Linked DNA regions of Homo sapiens. The protein of the gene in region 2 interacts with the protein of the main gene of each other region in a pairwise test. Each region holds a gene or a part of one and is shown on either strand. Other genes may lie near its edges.

The links.
Region 1: the proteins of MPP1 (region 2) and PRIMPOL interact in binary tests that used the Homo sapiens proteins (3 or more experiments, as listed by UniProt).
Region 3: the proteins of MPP1 (region 2) and DNPEP interact in binary tests that used the Homo sapiens proteins (3 or more experiments, as listed by UniProt).

What each region holds. Positions count from the first base shown.
Region 1 is NC_000004.12:184,647,662-184,651,407, forward strand, and holds the start of PRIMPOL (DNA-directed primase/polymerase protein), read left to right. Parts: upstream 1-2,076; 5' UTR 2,077-2,247; intron 2,248-3,746. UniProt on the Homo sapiens protein: DNA primase and DNA polymerase required to tolerate replication-stalling lesions by bypassing them.
Region 2 is NC_000023.11:154,798,790-154,802,535, reverse strand, and holds part of MPP1 (55 kDa erythrocyte membrane protein), read left to right. Parts: intron 1-2,642; exon of another isoform or gene 2,643-2,779; coding exon of another isoform or gene 2,780-2,791; intron 2,792-3,746. UniProt on the Homo sapiens protein: Essential regulator of neutrophil polarity. Regulates neutrophil polarization by regulating AKT1 phosphorylation through a mechanism that is independent of PIK3CG activity.
Region 3 is NC_000002.12:219,381,249-219,384,994, reverse strand, and holds part of DNPEP (aspartyl aminopeptidase), read left to right. Parts: intron 1-551; coding exon 552-629; intron 630-1,780; coding exon 1,781-1,864; intron 1,865-2,855; coding exon 2,856-3,016; intron 3,017-3,410; coding exon 3,411-3,450; intron 3,451-3,558; coding exon 3,559-3,660; intron 3,661-3,746.

The DNA.
Region 1 (3,746 bases), on a different chromosome or scaffold from region 2:
GTATGTCACCTCTACCATTTCTTTTCTAATTATTATTTGCTGAATAATCCTAAACCAGGTCTACTTTTTCTAGATAGGGCATAAAAGTAAAAATACAATGGATGGGCATTCACTGTGTTATGCCAGGCCCCGCATTTGGGGCAAGACACTAAGGATACCAAGATAAACCAAGTCCGTCCCTCCTGGAGTTTGCTTGCAAATCTAGCAGGGAAGATAGTAAACAAGCAACTGCAAAGGATATGACACATCTCTCTTAGGGAATGCTGGCTGCAGAAAGAACACAGCATAGGAAGATTTAACCTTAAACTGTTTAATGAAAACAGAAATTTAAGTAGCAGCTCTTCTAATCAAATGTGATGGCGGGAGAAAGGGAGTGCAGAGGTGTTGCAGGCAGACACTAGGTATGAAGGTCAGCATTGCCGTGCAGAAATCGAACCGGTGCTAAAGATAAGGAGGGGTGGGGGCACTCAGGACCCAACACACGCAGGGGTTTGTTAGCCATATTAAGTGCTGGGTTTAACCTAAGGGCAAAGGACGAGCTTTCTAGACTTTCATTTCATAAAGATCCCTCTGCCTGTGCTGTAAAAAGTGGACTGCAAAGGAGCAGGCGGGTCTGGAAGTGGAGAGACCAGGGAAGAGGCTGCTGTGGTCAGACGGCTGAAATCAGAGATAGAGAGACGCGGACAGATCTGGCAGACATTTACAAGGTCGACAAGGCTTGGCGACTAAGCAGGAAAAGAAGTGGGTGGGCGAGAGGGGGCTGCGAACGATGTTTTCCGGTTTCCTGCTTGGGTGCCACTTACTGAGAATGGGGGAAGAGGCAGGTGCAGGGCACACCCACCGAAAACCAGAGCGCCGAGTGTGAGCAGGGCTCGCTAACTCCTCACGGCCTGGGATTTCAAGGCGACGCCAACCAGCTGTGGCCACGGATACACAGCCACAGGTATGAGCTGCGAGCACTCACGAAACTCTGCAGGGCCGAAAAGGAATTGGAGTTTAAACCCTGCAACTATCTCTCTGGAAGAGCTAAACCACATTGTCAACCCGGGATAATCCAGGCCCCAGGCATGGAAGGCAGCAGAGACGGAAGCCTCGTCCAAAATTGGAAGGATCAGCCCCCAGGGCGAGTATCTCACAGTCAGCACCCGGCCGCCCCAGCCCTCGCAGCACCGCTTCCCGGGGCCACTCCTCCGCCGGCGGTAGCGCCGTCCGTTTCCCAGCTTGCCGCTGCCTTCCGCCGCCTGACCCGGCCTTCCGGCACTCGGCCGGCCGCCAGGTCTCCCGCCCTCGGAGCTCGGTGCCCCGTGCCCGACCTCCCGGCCCCGGGCTCGGTTCCCCTGGCCAGGCCTCCCGCTGCCTGGCCTCCCCGGCCCGGCCTCGCGCTGCCCGGCCTCCCCGGTCCCAGCCCAGCCTCCCGCCCCCGGGCCAGGTCTCCCCTCCGATGACCTGAGGCCTTTCCTTAGGTTACCCCCAGGTCCCTCTCCCTAAATCAAAAGCCTTAACCCGCTGCCTGGCTTCCCCGGCCCCGGCCCAGGCTCCCGCCTCCGGGCCAAGTCTCTCGCTCCGCGGGCTTCACTGCTCGCCCCCGCCCGGGCGAGGTGGCAAAACAAACACTCCGCCTTCCAGACCGGGCAGGTACCCGGGCGGGCGCAGGGCCTGGGAGAACGCAGGGAGCGGGGGCAGGGCTGACGGCCCGGAGCGAGGGCGGCAGTCACCGCACAGCCTCCTCATACCTTCTACAACCGCCTCACAATAGCACCCATCCGCTAGGAGCCGCGTCTGCACTGCTTCCGCGGCCCGCCGCCGGGAGATGTGCTCCAGCGCCAGCCCCGCCTCCCGCCCGCCCCTGTCGGCCCCTCGCGCCGCCTCCGCTGCGGCCCGTCCCCTAGCTCCCGCCCGCCCGAGAACCCAGCCCCAGGCTGGGCCCCAGGAGGCGCCCGCCCACCGCAGCGCGCCCCGCCCCCGCGCCCCGCGTCCTCACGCCCTGGTCCCGCCCTCGCGTCCCGCGCCAGTCCTCCCGCTTTGGTCCCGCCCTGAGGCTCGGCCCGGCTCCCCCGCCCCGGATTTGAAATCTAGGTCTTCCTGAGAGTCCGCGGGCTTCCGCTCCCAGCGCGGGATTCTGGAGGGAAATTGAGGGAGACTTGGAAACCGCGCCAGGCCCAACGGGTACCTAGAAGGGAGACAAAGCCAGGCCTGCTGCCCAGTTTGAGCTCTGGGAAGAAGAGGAGCAGGCCGGGACGCCCACCGGTAATTTCTGTCTCCTCTGCGATGACCTGAGGCCTTTCTTTGGGTTACCCTCAGGTCTCTCTCCCTAAATCAAAAGCCTTAACCTCCTGTCATCAGGGTGCCAGGCTAGAAATAACCAGGTCCACGCATGCTGTGTTTTCCACCATGTCAGGCTGCTGTGGACGCTCTTTCGATCACAAAAGCCACGAGCTGCGTGGAGTTCCCAAGGAGGCAGTTCTCAGCACTTGCTGGTCACTGGGTAGTCAGAGCCTGACACACAGGCTCAAGCCGCTCACGCATCATAGTAGTGTACTTAATCCACATATAAATGTTACAAGTTAAGCATCCCACAACAAAGTAGCATTTAACATCATGAGGAAAAAGAGATGGGGCAAAGAGATTAACGAACCAATCCAGAGGGAGTGAAGAAGAGGAAAAGAAGCCTGGTTTGGGCCGAGAGGTCCTTCTGCAAAGACGGCGTCAATTAAGCCGGCTGTTGGGAGCTGCCGAAGGCCCCATCTTTTATAGTCACAGAGTCCTGTGGTGAGAACTGGTAATGGAAGAGAGTGCTTGTTTGTGTCCTTACCTGGCTGGATGCGGACTATTTTTTTATTTGTTTATTAAAGTATAGTATGCTTGTTGGCAAATGCCTTATGAAATGTAAAAATGGGGTCTTCTCCTAAGATGGAGTTATTAATGGTTACGTCAATGGTGTGCTATATACACTGCCCTACCGATCCCCTTCCTATTTTGGGTCGTGAACTCATTTCAGACCCTGAAGCAAACTGTGAATCATTTTCGCAGAAGAATTCACCAACACATGTGAGCACGACATTCTGCATCAGATTTCAAAAAGTTCTTGACATTCAGAAGTCAGATTCAGGGACCCCATGGCAGAGCCTGTTTCTAACACTTGCGCCTATTCGACTATAGGGACTATATTCTGCACAGAAATATACTTAGTTTTATATATGGTTACCCCTTGCTGAGTTTATTGCATGCTTTTACATTTTCATAATACATTTGTTTGTTTCAGCCTTTCAACAATCCCTCGGGATAGGAATTCCAATTTAAAGAGGATAAGGTTTAAAGAGGTTAAGGCCGAGTTTAAAGAGGTTAAGTCCCGGCGCGGTGGCTCATGCCTGTAATCCCAGGACTTTGGGAGGCCGAGGCAGGTGGATCACGAGGTCAGGAGTTCGAGACCAGCCTGGTCAAGATGGTGAAACCCTGTCTTTACTAAAAATACAAAAAAAATTAGCCGGGTGCAGTGGTGGGCACCTGTAATCCCAGCTACTTGAGAGGCTGAGGCAGGAGAATCGCTTGAACCCGGGAGGCAGAGGTTGCAGTGAGCTGAGATTGCGCCACTGCACTCTAGCCTGGGCAACAGAGCAAGACTCTGTCTCAAAAAAAAGAAAAAAAAGGGGTTAAGTAGTTTGCTGTTGCTAAAAAGACAGTCACAGGAGTTAAACTCAGATCCCACAAATAAGACTTAGGCCTTTCTTTATCCCTCCTGAATTGAG
Region 2 (3,746 bases):
ACACTTTCCCCAGGACCTGAAGCAATTGGTTGAGAATCCCTGAAAATTCTCTTGGGCCTATCCCACATCAAAAAAAAATCACCTAACAGATAAGTCAGGCTCCAGGCAAATTTCCACCAAGAAAACCTGTTTCTTGGTTCTTAGGCCATCACATGCAGCATTACTCCCCGCTGGTGGTCACTGAGTGTGACGCAGTGTTGTTTGTTGCCTACTCCAGGTCTGCTGCTGGAACTAAGAGGCAAATAAGGAAGGACGCAGACATGGAAACAAATACAGTAGTGTGGTGGTGATGTGATAGAAGCAGCTGTGGAGCGCTGTGGAGCAAGGAGGGGCACCCAGCACAGTGGGCTCTTGCATTTCGCAGTACCTAGGCTGTAACTGGCAGGTGGTACCTGGGCAGAGGGAACAGCCTGTGCACGGACACCAAGGTGCATGCCGAGTGCGGCACCTTCTGCGATGGCAGGAGGTTGAGTCTACGGTGTGCATGATCACTGACTCTGCTTCTGACTAGTTATAATTTCACCTGAGAAAGAACTTTCGCTGCAGACTTGGATCTTGCTGTTTCCTTTGCAAAGGAAATGGTTCCGTTCAAGGCTTTTCTTTTCACAGAACTGATACTAGAAAGTAAAGTGTAATTTTCAAATTATTTAGTCCTCTGCCCAATTTCCCCAGTATGTGGTGTGGTCTCAGCCAGTCTGCCTTTCCTGTCCTTCACTTCCAGGAACTTCATGACTTTTTTCTGTTTTTTGTTTTTTTTTTTTTTTTTTTTTTTTTTTTGAGACAGAGTTTTGCTCTGTCACCCAGGCTGGAGTGTAGGGGTGTGGTCTTGGCTCACTGCAACCTCTGCCTCCTAGGTTCAAGCGATTCTCCTGCCTCAGTCTCCCAGCTAGCTGGGATTACAGGCGCCTGCCAACACGCCTGGCTAATTTTTGTATTTTTGATAGAGACAGGTTTTCGCCATGTTGGCCGGGCTGGTCTCGAACTCCTGATCTCAGGTGATCCGCCTGCCTCGGCCTCCCAAAGTGCTGGGATTACAGGTATGATCCAGCGCCCTGGGCCTTTCATGACTTTTTTTTCAAAACTGGAAGGGCTTAGGATACCTTGCAGATAAGAATCTGCTTTTATTGTGGCTAAGCAGATTTGAGTTTCATCATGAACGTTCTATTCTTTTCTAACTCATTTGTTCTCCCTACACAAGACACTGAAGTATAATAGAATACCAGGAACAGATATTTCAGGTTAAGATCAATTCCCTTAAATTGGAGTTTGCCAACCTGGGCACTGTTAACACTTTGGGTCTGATAATTCTGTTGTAAAAAGTAATACCTCGCCGCTAAGTTGTGACAATCAATAATGTCCTGAGACAGTGTCAAGAGGGGAGACAAAATTAGTTGATGCAGAGATTTTTCTCCTAAGCAGTGAGTTGTCTCTAACCTTTCAGTGTTGCTAAAAAAGAACTCTGGGTGTGGAGTGTAGAAAGGCAAGACTAAATAGCCATATTTCCAAAATTGGCTGGGGTAGGGGAAGTGACGCCAGAGGAGGGGAAGAGGAACTTTCGTAACATAGTCTTGCTTTTCTTTTTTTCTTTCATATGAAGAAATATACATGAACAAAACACATAATAGGTTTTCCCTCAAAAGTTATCTTCCTTGCGAGGCCTTTTCTGCTTTATTTTCCTCCTTAGCACCTGCCATCATCTCTGAATATTCTGCACAGTGCAGAGGCAGCCTTTATGTGAGGGACACAGCACCTGCATTCTCTCCATGTACCTGCACAAACTCCAAAGTCCATGCTTATAGTTTAACTTCTGGAGTCTGAGGCTTACTCATCCTTTAAGCTCAGACAGGTTTCTGAACCATTTCATGTCTTCAAATATTGACCACAGAATGGGGATGAGCATTTGATTTAACGAGTGTTGTTATTTGCACACAGCTCCGGCACTGGTTTAATGGCAGTGTGGGGACTCAGTGCCAGGTATCTGCAGCCCTGTGTTTCTGCTGTGTGGAACGGTGCTACTTGAGTTTCCTGTTGTTTTTTTTCCCCAGTGGAAGCAAAAGCCTTTGCATGTGTACTGAGAGCATGGGGTAGAAAAAGCTCGTTGGGAAGGGATCTCTAGAGACTTGGCCTTTAGGTTGATGTATGTGTTCCCAGATGGATTTAGTACCTGAGAAGCAAAGCACCTGGTTAATGTATGATTTTAAGACAGTACCTGCCAGAATATCCTGGCTCTTAGGCCTTCCTCTCTCCCTAGTTCCTGTCATTTGTGGTTAAACAGTGCTAATCTCTTTCTAATACTTCAGAATACCCTTGGCTTTCTCAGTTTCTCTTGTTTTTTCCCAAAGTGGAATAGGATACTGCCCATGCAAAGAGAGGGAATTTGCGAGCACCTGGGGCCAGGGCTTGCTGGGCAGCTGTCTGGCATCATCTCGCCTTCTTGGACTTGGCTTTCTAAGTCTCCACGTGGGAGCAGTTGGCAAAGAGCCTAACAGTAGGCTGAGCAAATATTTGTTCTTTCCTATGTTCACTGTCACTTAATCTAATTGTTTGGATTAGAAAGCCAACTTCAGTTGCCCCTGCTCTATTCACCCCCGCCACCGCCCGCCCCCCGCCAAGTTTGTTTTTCATCTCTTTTTAAATTCCAGCTTCCTTTGAGCAACTGCCTCTGCCCTTTGAACCCTGCTGCAGATGTTTCCTCTGAAGGGGCTTTCAGAGCGGCAGGCATTGCCACTCCAGCACTTTGTCTGATTAAAGGCCAGAGGCTGCAGAACAAAGGCCAGACATGGAGTCCTGGGTGAGTGTTTATTCCCTGGCTCCTCCTGAATCCCAGCAGTCATCCTTAACAGAGCCACTTCCGCCCTGCCTTGTCACTGGTCAGGGGCAGGCCTGCCATAGCTCTGTGGCCTCCTATATCCACTACAGATGATGGTGGCTGCTTTGAGAGGATGATGTGGAGGTTGTGAACTGAACTCTGAGAAATAGAATCTAGTACCTTTGACCTTTATTATTTGTTCAGCATTACTCATGTCACTGACAGTATATGTCTGCATATCTTTTCTCCTATGATGTGTCAGTAATGAGGAGACATGGGGACTAGTTGAAGGAGTTCTGTAAGATGAGGTCACAGAGAGCTGACCCTCCCTTTCTGAGAGTCTCATGAAGACAGGGTGGCTCAGGGACAAGTTCACGGTGGAGAAAATTGTGCTTTGCTTTTGGAAAACTTACTGTTGCAAGTGTGTACTTTAGTTACCACGTTGGAAGTTTCCGTTTTTCTTAGTCATCATTTGCAACTTCTGGGTAAGCGTGATAGTGACTCTTAGTCATCGTAAAGAGGAACGTCTTGTTGGATAAGCACATCTGAAAGACCAACCTTTGGGATGGCAACTCTTGAACTTTTCCAGCTGGAATGGTTCTGCCTCTAGTAAGCTTTGCTGAGTCTTTAATTTAAAGGCTGACATGTAAAAAGCAATCACTGTAATAAAGCTGGATAAGAAGAATATGACATAGCTAGGCATGGTGGCTCACACCTGTAATCCCAGCACTTTGGGAGGCCGAGGCGGGCGGATCACCTGAGGTTGGGAGTTCAAGACCAGCCTGGCCAATGCGGAGAAACCCCATCTCTACAAAAAATACAAAATTAGCCGGGCGTGGTGGTGCATGCCTGTAATCTCAGCTACTCGGGAGGCTGAGGCAGGAGAATCGCTTGAATCCAGGAGGCGGAAGTTGTGGTGAGCCGAGATCGTGCCATT
Region 3 (3,746 bases), on a different chromosome or scaffold from region 2:
TGTTTACTTCTTTGGCCTTTTTGATGACAATTCAGCCCTTCCTTTTCTTGACCCACAGGAAGAGGTCAAGAGCTATTGGCCTCCACCCTTTTGTTCCTCAGCACCAACCCAGCCCCCTTCTCCAATCTCTGCTTGGTCCTGCCTAGCAAGGAATCCCAGCACTTTGGGAGGCTGAGGCGGGGGGAATCACATGAGGTCAGGAGTTCGAGACTAGCCTGACCACCATGGTGAAACCCTGTCTCTAATAAAAATACAAAAATTAGCTGGGCCTGGTGGTGCATGCCTGTAATCCCAGCTACTCAGGAGGCTGAGGCACGAGAATCCTTTGAACCCGGGAGGCGGAAGTTGCAGTGAGCCGAGATCGAGCCATTGCACTTCAGACTGGGCGACAAGAGCGAACCTTCATCTCAAAAAAAAGAAAAAACAAAATAGTGCCCTAAGCCAGGGGTCAGGGAGAGGTTGCGCAAGAAACCAAGGAGACCCTTGGGAGCAAAAGAAAGGTGAGTGGGGGTGGAGGGTTGAAGGTCGGGCTGACTGTCTTACCTCTCTAGGTCTTGGGTGGTGCCTATGATGAGTTCATCTTTGCTCCTCGGCTGGACAATCTGCACAGCTGCTTCTGTGCCCTGCAGGTGAGGAGCCGGGGCGCCCCAGGCAGCACATAACCACCAGCAGAGGTGGTATGTTTGGGGTCGGGGGAGCTGCCTAAAGCCCCAGCAGGTTGTGAGAGAGGGCCATTGTCTACCCGCTCAGTCTGCTGGTGCTGGATGGACCAGGAGGGGGCCCTAAATGTTGCAGCCTCAGCATCGCCACCTTTGGTCTCTGCCCTTGCACTATCAGGGTGTTGAGGCAAGAAGAAGGAGGAGAAGTTGTTTCAGGCACCATGGTCTCTTGTCCTAGCCTTGCTCCTGCTGCTTTTCCTGAAGTTAACAACCTCTGCCTCAGGGAAAGGCTTTATCATCCACAAGGCAGTATCATCCACCTCCTTCTGCTTCCTACGCCACTCCCCAGGCTTAAGACCCCAGCCTTCTCCCTGTTTCTTGGGATCTCAGTCAGGTAGCCTCTCTTCCTAGTCACCTTGATATTCCCCACCTTCTCTCCACCCTAGTCAGTTCCCTTTCTTTCTCTCCTCTTGCCCTTGATCTCCCTCTGCCTTTTTCTGCCTTTCCTTCCCTGTAATCCTGTGGCTGGAGATAGGCTTTGGGCTGTAATTGAGACCAGAGCTGGACCTGGGACCTGCATCTACTTCTGCAGGCAACCAGCCAGTCATGTCACCTTGATGGAGTCTGTCACCTCTTTGAACCTCAGTCTTTTCCCTGAGGCCAATCAGTTTATGTGATGTGTGTAGCCTTTTGGCTTTCCAGGACTCTCAGCTCTTCCTCTCTGTCCTCCACATCTTCTACTGCCTTTTGCATGGGAAGGTAGAGAACAACACCCAAAGGATGGTGTCTCCTGTCCCAGTTGAAAAGGTTTCTACCTAGCTATTGATCTGGCCAAAAAAAAAAAGAAAGAAAGAAAAAAAGAGAAAAAAAAGGTCCTCACCACACCTTAAAGGTTTCTACCTATGTAGCTATTTATTTGGCAAGAAAAAAAAGGTCCCCACCACACCCTCTGCCAGGCAGTGCCCTAATTGATAAAAGTCATGGCCATGGAAGGCAGACAGGGGAATGTGCACACCCAAGGTGCTGGTGGATGGGGGAGCGTGCACACCCAAGGTGCTGGTGGGCTGAGTTCCAGCAGAAGCAGGTTGGAGATGATGCTCTCATTTCCTTCCCTGAACCAGGCCTTGATAGATTCCTGTGCAGGCCCTGGCTCCCTGGCCACAGAGCCTCACGTGCGCATGGTCACACTCTATGACAACGAAGAGGTACGTGGAGGGTTCTGGGGAGGGTCACCTCTGCGGAGTCTTCCACAGCCAACTTGTTGTGCCAGGCATCCACCGTGAGCCAGGGCTCTTCTGGGGGCCCCAAGACAGGGGAGATGCTGCCTGTGCCTCCTTAGCACTTGGTGTCTCCTCTGACTCAACATAGATCTGCTTATTCGAGGGTGACCGTCTCTCCTGTATCTCTCTTTGTGCCACATGGTGAGCTTCTTCCTTTAGGACAGGGACTCTACCCAGCCCATCCTCGTAGCCCCAGGGCTCAGCACAGAGTAGGTCCTCATGATGCCTGCGTGTGTGAGGCTGCAGTCTCAGCTGCATAACAGAGCTTGAACAGCTAGTGCTCTCTCATGTAACAACCCAGGTCAGAGTTAGCAGTTTAGGAGGGGTCCCTGCCGTCCTGAACACATGACTTCCATTTCAGGATTCAGGGTGGCCGTTCCAGCTCTGGCCATCATGTCTACACTGAGTTAGTAGGAAGGGAAGAGAGGGCAAAGGGGCAGTAGACACCCCCTGGCTTTAAGGGCATGATCCAGAAGTGACATTCATCACTGCTTACATTCCACAGAACTTAGCTGCAGGGGAGCCTGGAAATGTCATCTCTAGCTGGGTAGTTAAGTGCTTAGCTACAACTTGGGTGTTCTAAAAGATATCATGGACAGTTAGCAGTCTCTGTCATACACATAAAAGAAAATTGACCAGTGTGGTGGGGCACCTGTGCTGAGCCCCAGATGTGAGGGTCACGAGAGGAGGAAGGGGAGCAGTGCAGGAAACCCACCAGTACTGTTAAGAATGTGAGTTAGTTTGGTCTCAGCCCACTGTCTGGTGTTCAGTGACGACCCCAGGTTAGGGGTGTTGCTAAGAACACCCAGTGACTCAGTGGGGTTTTGGGCCAGTTGGGCAATGGGCCCCTCTCACTGGCTTCCAAGATCAGGCCCCTAAGCCCAGATTCCCAGAGTCAGGACTCTACTGTCGCCAGGTGGGGTCTGAGAGTGCACAGGGAGCACAGTCACTGCTGACAGAGCTGGTGCTGCGGCGGATCTCAGCCTCGTGCCAGCACCCGACAGCCTTCGAGGAAGCCATACCCAAGTCCTTCATGATCAGCGCAGACATGGCCCATGCTGTGCATCCCAACTACCTGTGAGTCTCTAGTGCCAGTCACACAGTCTTCACATAGCTGGAGACCCAAGCATAACCTGCCTTGAGGCTCTGCCTTGGCCCCAGCCTCTTCCTTTCTCCCTTCTTCATTCTGCCGGGAGGTTCACGGGCACTTCCTTTTCACTACTGCGAGACCAACTTGGTCAAAGTCATGCAATGCCTAACCCAGGTGTGTGGAATACACCTTTGTCTACAAACTTGTTTCCATCTATTGCTAGAGGCTGCCCGGAACCCTGTGTGTGGAATGACTCTGAAGTCCCACTGGGCTGGGCGGGAAAGAGTGGTGATCTATTAGTGATGTCTGCCATGGGAGGGTGGTGAGTGTCGACAGGCCTGCTCCTGTTTGCTATGTCTGGCCCTTATCTGTCTCTTACAGGGACAAGCATGAGGAGAACCACCGGCCTTTATTCCACAAGGTGAGACGTGCCATTTCTCCCTAGGGACTTGGAGGTCTGGCTGTTCCGAGCGCCGACTCATTCCCTTTGGGCCTGTCATTACCTCTGCCTCACCTTGACTCTCCCCAGGGCCCCGTGATCAAGGTGAACAGCAAGCAACGCTATGCTTCAAACGCGGTGTCAGAGGCCCTGATCCGAGAGGTGGCCAACAAAGTCAAGGTCCCCCTGCAGGTGAGGGTGGGCCCTGCCTGGGAAGGTGTGATGGAGGGAGCTTGGTGGGGGCACAAACAGATGGGCCCCCCATGAACAGGGAACCT